Homo sapiens: one gene and its partner. The gene in region 1 interacts genetically with each later gene. Each region holds a gene or a part of one and is shown on either strand. Other genes may lie near its edges.

Region 1 (3,500 bases):
GTGAGGAAAATGGCAGATATGGGGGTCATTAGTATATAGTACTAGTTGAAACCTGAGCCAAAAGCTTATGGATATGATAGAACATTTGCATTCATAATACCTTGATCTGTCTACCCTTTGCTAAGTATCTGACATATTTTAAATTTAGTGACTCATTGTGATACTATGTGCAATTAAAACAATATTATCCTCTAGGAATACAACTCCAAATATGTTGACTTGATTGAGGAACAACTCAATGAAGCACTTACTACTTACCGGAAGCCTGTTGATGGTGATAACTATGTTCGTCGGAGTAACCAAAGGTGCGTACCCAGTTATCAGATTTAAAACTAGTTCATCATAAATTATTTTTAACATTTCTGAGTTTTTGTATATTCTGCTTCTAACATGATATAGGAAGAATCTTAATGCGCAGCATTAATTGCTCAAAAATTCAGTGGCATTCATGGCATGTTGAATATCCTTACTGATAACGCATTCACATATACTCCATGCTGGCACCCCAGTCTGTATTTCTAGGCCTAGATTCTCTTACCAGTACTTTGAGCTCTGATAAACTGTTACAGGTTGAACATCACTTATCCAAAATGATGAAATGTTTCGCATTTCAGATTTTTTCAGATTTGGAATATTTGCATATATATAACGAGATACCTTGGGAATGGTACCCAAGTCTAAACATGAAATTAATCTGTTTCATATACGCCTTATACACGTAGCCTAAACATAATTTTATGCAGTGTTATAAGTAATTTTCTGTATGAAATAGTTTGCATTAAATACTAATGTGTGGAATTTTCCACTTACAGTGTCATGTCAGTGCTCAAAAAGTTTTGGATTTTGGATCATTTTGGATTAGGGAAGCCCAGCCTATATTTTACCTGAGAAATCCTCATTCCTTGTTACTTTCATATTTTTATTTATGCTGGAGAGTTGTATCTAATTTTATTTATCAAACATTTATTAAAATTCTTTTGTTCTAATTAGCATATTTAAATTAGCCAAGAGATATAGTAATCATCTTTATTATACTAGATTACAGCGTCCTCACGTCTACCTGCCTATACACCTTTATGGACAACTAGTACACCATAAAACAGGCTGCCATTTGTTGGAAGTACAGGTAAAAACATAATTCACTTATTTTAAGTAGCTACAATAGTAAAAAAAAAACAAAATCTTAACATTGCTAAAATATTACCTTTGCAAAAACTTCTCAAAAGCTTTAATATCAGTGGTGTAATTGCTTTTAAATTCATCTATTTTGTAATTGACTTAGGCATTCTATATTTATTAACCTGAGAAATATTAATGGCCTTGCAATGCATTAACTGACTTGTGTATGACTTTTTGAATAACTAACTTGTTATGTAGAGTAAGCAATCCAATGAAGATCTGAGTTCTTTTTTTAGAGTTTAGTGGAGAAATTCAGATCTCCAAAAACGTACTGAAAAACCGAGTTTTTCTTCCACTCATTGGGAAATTAAACTGAACCTAATACAGATTAAGTTATCCTTGTTGAGCAATAAATTGAAAGTTGCTGGTTGTGAGCACATTTTATTCTCGCGTACTTCATGGAATGTTAACAAGCATAGGCAAGCAGTTGTTCTTTGAGTTATAATATGTACACCGCATTTATGGTTGTGAATATGTCATGCAACTGTTTCCAATAAATGTAACGTTTCTCTTATTTTAGAAATAAAGTTATAGGAATATTTGTTTTTGTGACAGAACAATAGTTATTTAACAATTTAGTTCCCGATTGTATCAGTATTCATCTCAAGAGCACAAAGTTTTGCATAAATGTACTCTATAGTTTCATGTGTTTTTATATTACGTCTGTGAAAACTGTTGGGACAAGTATTTTCATATTAACATTTGAAAATTTCACTAAAAATTTAAATGATTTTCTCAGTGTTACTACTTACATAGTATGATAAAACCTAAGCACTAATTTACTTTCTGTTTTAAAGAATAAGTATGATTATTTAGTAATACTAAGTGCCAAGTACTTTGGTAAGCACTGTATGTGCAATAATTTATTAAATCTTGAAACCTTATGATGCAAATGTTATTATCACTCTTCTAGATATTAGGAAATCAAAGGATGAGGAGATGAAGTAACTTGCCCAAGGCCATGCAGTTAATAAGTGATAATTCTAGAATGTGAATTCAGAACCCCTGCCCTATGCTGCTTCTCAAGAAATTTTACATAAAATTATTTAGAATTTAAATATGCAAAAATGACAAAAAACAAACGTTATACTGGTTTTATGATGCAATAATAATATATTAAATACATAAATATATTATTACTCATGGTATTTTTTTTTCTTTCTCCAGAATATTATTACAGAACTCTGTCGTAATGTTCGTACACCAGATTTGGATAAGTGGGAAGAAATTAAAAAACTGAAAGCATCTCTTTGGGCCTTGGTTTGTAATAAACACTTCTGTAAGATCTTCGCAATTTTTAGATTTTTAAGTTTTTTTTTCATTTATACTAAATAGATAAATATTTTCTTTGGAACTACTTATTAGATTAATATTTAAGACTGGATTGTTCCTGCCAATATAAGTGTATTATCTCTATGTTGAAGAATAGATGGTTGAACTATTGGTTTCATGACTTTTGTTTTGTTGCTAAGACAACTAGAATTAATTCATGCCTAATGTTTTGTACTTGAGGAGGCTTTTACATTTTTTCTCTCTCAGAGATGAGGTTAAATTTGTTTCTTGGTAGCTTTCCAAATCTTTTGAAAGAGTGACTCTTATATTTGATGTAAGTGATTTCTTTTCTTTCAGGGAAATATCGGCTCATCAAATTGGGGTCTCAATTTGCTACAGGAAGAAAACGTGATTCCAGATATACTAAAACTTGCAAAACAGTGTGAAGTTCTTTCCATCAGAGGGTAGGTCATTTAACTCAGAAATCTTTCTAATGTAGACGTTGTTATTCACAAATGGATGTTAGGGGAAAGTATTTTATGATTAAGTGCAATGCATAACTGTTAATCCACTGAAAGTTCTAATGATACAAGATTATTAACTGTATTAAGTTAAACATCTAAACGAACTCCTTGTTTACTACTATAATTTGATTTTTATTATATTGAAGTTTACCTTGTAGGTAACAGGTAAGGCATAGTGTTGTACAGATACTCCAGTATTCCTGTAACCCAGCTGTTCCAGATTTATACTAGAAAAGCTAATATACCTTTTTTGCTCATGTTGCATTGTGTTCTTTTTATTTTGTTGTAATTACTATTTTTATTGGGAAGGTTTGCTTGTTTTTTATTGCTGCTAATTTATTCCTGACTAGTCTTAATAAGTTTTTTTTTTTCCACAAACGCAACCATTTTGGTGGGTTTTAGAGAAAGTTCAAAGTATGTATAGCAAATTAATCTGTGGTGGCTTTAAGAAATCTCAGCTTGGAATTATAACTGTTTTTACTGCATCTTTTATATACAGGACCTGTGTATATGTACTTGGGCTCA
Region 2 (3,500 bases), about 27 Mb from region 1:
TTAAGAGCCTACTTTACAGACCTCTATGCAGATAAATGTGAAAATCTACATGAAATGAAATGGATTATTTCCTAGAAAAAAACAGCTTAACAAAATTGACACCCTTAGAGATAAACTGCTTAAACATACTATATTCATAGGAAAAAAAAAAAAAGAAAAAGTGTTATCAGGGAGCTTCCCCATTTTAAAAAAGAAAAGAACTAGCTCATATGATTTTGCAGGGAATTCTACAAATCGTTCAAAGAATAGGTAATCTAAATGATCCACAGTTCTCTGTATTTGTTTTGTCTTGTTTTTTTTGTTTTTTTTTTTTTCTCAGACAGGGTATTGCCCTGTCATCCAGGCTAGGATGCAGTGGCACAATTATAGCTCACTGCAGCCTCGAATTCATGAGTTCAAGTGATCCTCCTGCCTCAGCCTCCCAAGTAGCTAGGACTACAAGTATGCGCCACCATGGCCAGAGAATTTTTAAATTTCTTTTTTGTAGGGACATCGATCATTATATTCCCCAGGTGAGTCCTGGGGATCCTCCTGGATTCAAGGGCTCCTCCTGCCTTGGTCTCCCAAAGTGCTGGATTACAGCCATGAGCCACTGAGTCTAGCCTGATGCACATATTGTTCCAAAGCACTGAAAATACTGGAAAAACATCCGAAATCTTTTATTAAGCAACCATAATACTGACACCTAAAACCTGATCAAAAGACAACACTCACACAAATACAGGTCAATATCAAGCTGTGCTTCATGACCTATATCCTCTTAAGTGATTCTGATGTCACAATTGGCTTATCTGGCCAGATATGGTGGCTCACATGTGTAATTCCAGCACTTTGGGAGGCTGATGCGGGAGGCTTGCTTGAGTTCAGGAGTTCAAGACCTGCTTGAGCAACATAGCAAGACCTTGTCTCTAAAAAATATTAAAAAATTAGACAGGGATAGTGTCACACCCCTGCAATCCCAGCTACTCAGGAGGCTAAGGCAGCAGGATCCCTTGAGCCCATGAGTTTGAGGTTATAGTGAGCTATGATCATGCTACTGCACTCCAGCCTGGGTGACAGAGCTAGATCCTCTCTCAAAAAAAAAAAGAAAGAAAAAGAAAAATAGCATTATTATATATCATGAGTCTGAATGTCTAGTTGAGCCTAAGACCCCTAGTGAGTACTACACTGCTTATAATTATTATTATAAAAGTGAATAAAGGCATGAAATATAAAATCATGTTTTAGAACATGCATACTACTGTATTCTTTGATCTTTATAGTACTGACATCTTAAAGTATATGCCTTTGCTATTTTATTAATCTCTTATAAAAATAAATTCAATATTTACTGAATTTACTGAATTGCCAGTATTTACTGAATTCCAAGAAATTCAATATTTACAACATAGAAAGACAAAAGTATATGTTCTCAAACTTTTGAAAATCAGATCTTTTCACAATCGAATGTAGAGGTTGGCAAGCTTTTTCTCTGAAGTCATTAGCAAATATTTTAGATTTTAGAGGCCATACAATCTCCGTTTCAACTATATACAACTCTGCTGTGGTAGCTGGAAATCAGCCACAGATAAAACATAAACAAATGAGTATGGCTGTGTGTCAGTAAAGCTTTATTTAAGGACACTGACATTTGAATTTCTTTTTTGTTTGTTTGTAGAGGCGGTGCCTTGCTATGTTGTGTAGGCTGGTCTCAAACTCGTAGCCTGAAGCAATCTTCCTGCCTTGGCTCCCAAAGCACTGGGATTATAGGCAGGAGCCACCACACCTGGCCTGAAATTTGAATTTCATGTAATTTTCACAAGTCACAAAATATTCTTTTCAATAATTTGAAAATGTGAAAACCATTCTTAGTTCAAAAGCCTTATAAAAACAGACAATGGACCAAATTTGGTCTTTGGGCTGTAGTTTGTCAACTCCTAATTTAATGAAAGGCAGAGACCCCATCCATATATGACAAACATATGTACGTGTATGCACAAATTTGCATCCAGTTTCTGGAAGTTGGGTCTATTTGCTCTCTAACGTCCTTGTTAACTTTAAAACTCTATGATCATTTTCAAACTCATTCTAATTAGAGGTCCTTTTTGGAATACTCCAATTACCTGAACTCATCACTCTAAGACAGGTTTTACAAAAACCTCTCCCCCACATACTGTGAGTTCTTACCTTCTTTTTGCTCTTTTTCTTTTGAAGAAATTTCAGGTCATTAGCGGAGTTAGCATATTCTATCTTTTAATTTCTACACTACTTCAAAGGTCTTCTAACTGTTCCATTTTCTACAAAGCATCCCACACAATGTGCTCATATCAGTCTTTCTAACACAAAGAGTGCTCAAAAGCCAACTGCCTGCTGTTTTTTATTTAATTTTTTTCAGTGACAGGTCTTGTTCTGTAGCCCATGCTGGAGTGCCCAGGCAAAACTCAATGCAGCCTCAAACTCCTGGGCTTAAACAATCCTCCAGTTTCAGCTTCCTGAGTAGCTGGGACTACAGGTGTGTGCCAGCATGCTCAACTACTTTTTAAATTGTTTGTAGAGATGGGAGTCTCGTTATGTTTCCCAGGCTGGTCTTGAACTCCTGGCCTCAAGTAATCCTTCTGTCACAGCCTCCCAAAGTGTTGGGATTCTGGGTATGAGCCACTGTGCCAGGCCTGTTTTTTTTTTTCTTAATTAATTTTTTTGTCCATTTTAAAAAATAATTTTTCAAAAAAGGTTAAATAAAACCTTAGCCTGGCTTTCAAGATGCTCTATTGTATGGCTACTGATATGGTTTGACTCTGTGTCCCCACCCAAATCTCATCTTGTAGCTCCCGTAATTCCCATGTGTTGTGGGAGGGGCCTGGTGGGAGATAATTGAATCATGGGGGTGGGTCTTTCCTGTGCTGTTCTCATGACGGTGAATAAGTCTCATGAGATCTGATGGTTTTATTTTTATTTTTTGGGGGATGGAGTATTACTCTGTCACCCAGGCAGCCTGGAGTGCAGTGGCACAGTCTTGGCTCACTGCAACCTCAGCCTCCCAGGTTCAAGTGATTCTCCTGCCTCAGCTTCCCAGGTAGCTGGGATTACAAGCACACGCCACCACTCCTGGCTAATTTCTGTATTTTTAGTAGAGATGGTATTTCACCACGTTGGGCAGGATGGTCTCGAACTCCTGAACTCAAGTGATCCACCCGCCTTGGCCTCCCAAAGTGCTAGGATTACAGGCATGAGCCACTACGCCTGGCTGAGATCTGATGGTTTTAAAAATGGGAGTTTCCCCGCACAAGCTCTCTCTCTTTGCCTGCTGCCATCCACGTGAGACATGACTTGCTCCTCCTTGCCTTCCGCCATGATTGTCCCCAGCTACGTGGAACTATAAGTCCATTAAACCTCTTTCTTTGGTAAATTGCCCAGTCTTGGGTATGACTTTATCAGCAGCATGAAAATGGACTAATACAGCTACTATTCCTCTGTACCACCTTACGGACTCTTACCAAGTGAAATTTGTTCACTGTTAAAAG

What was found.
Region 2: changes in RICTOR (region 1) and TRAPPC13 together harm fitness more than expected from each alone (negative genetic interaction), as found in Homo sapiens cells (one large-scale study listed by BioGRID).

Annotation. Positions count from the first base shown.
Region 1 is NC_000005.10:38,952,400-38,955,899, reverse strand, and holds part of RICTOR (rapamycin-insensitive companion of mTOR), read left to right. Parts: intron 1-195; coding exon 196-305; intron 306-1,038; coding exon 1,039-1,126; intron 1,127-2,346; coding exon 2,347-2,439; intron 2,440-2,808; coding exon 2,809-2,915; intron 2,916-3,474; coding exon 3,475-3,500. UniProt on the Homo sapiens protein: Component of the mechanistic target of rapamycin complex 2 (mTORC2), which transduces signals from growth factors to pathways involved in proliferation, cytoskeletal organization, lipogenesis and anabolic output.
Region 2 is NC_000005.10:65,638,527-65,642,026, reverse strand, and holds part of TRAPPC13 (trafficking protein particle complex subunit 13), read right to left. Parts: intron 1-3,500.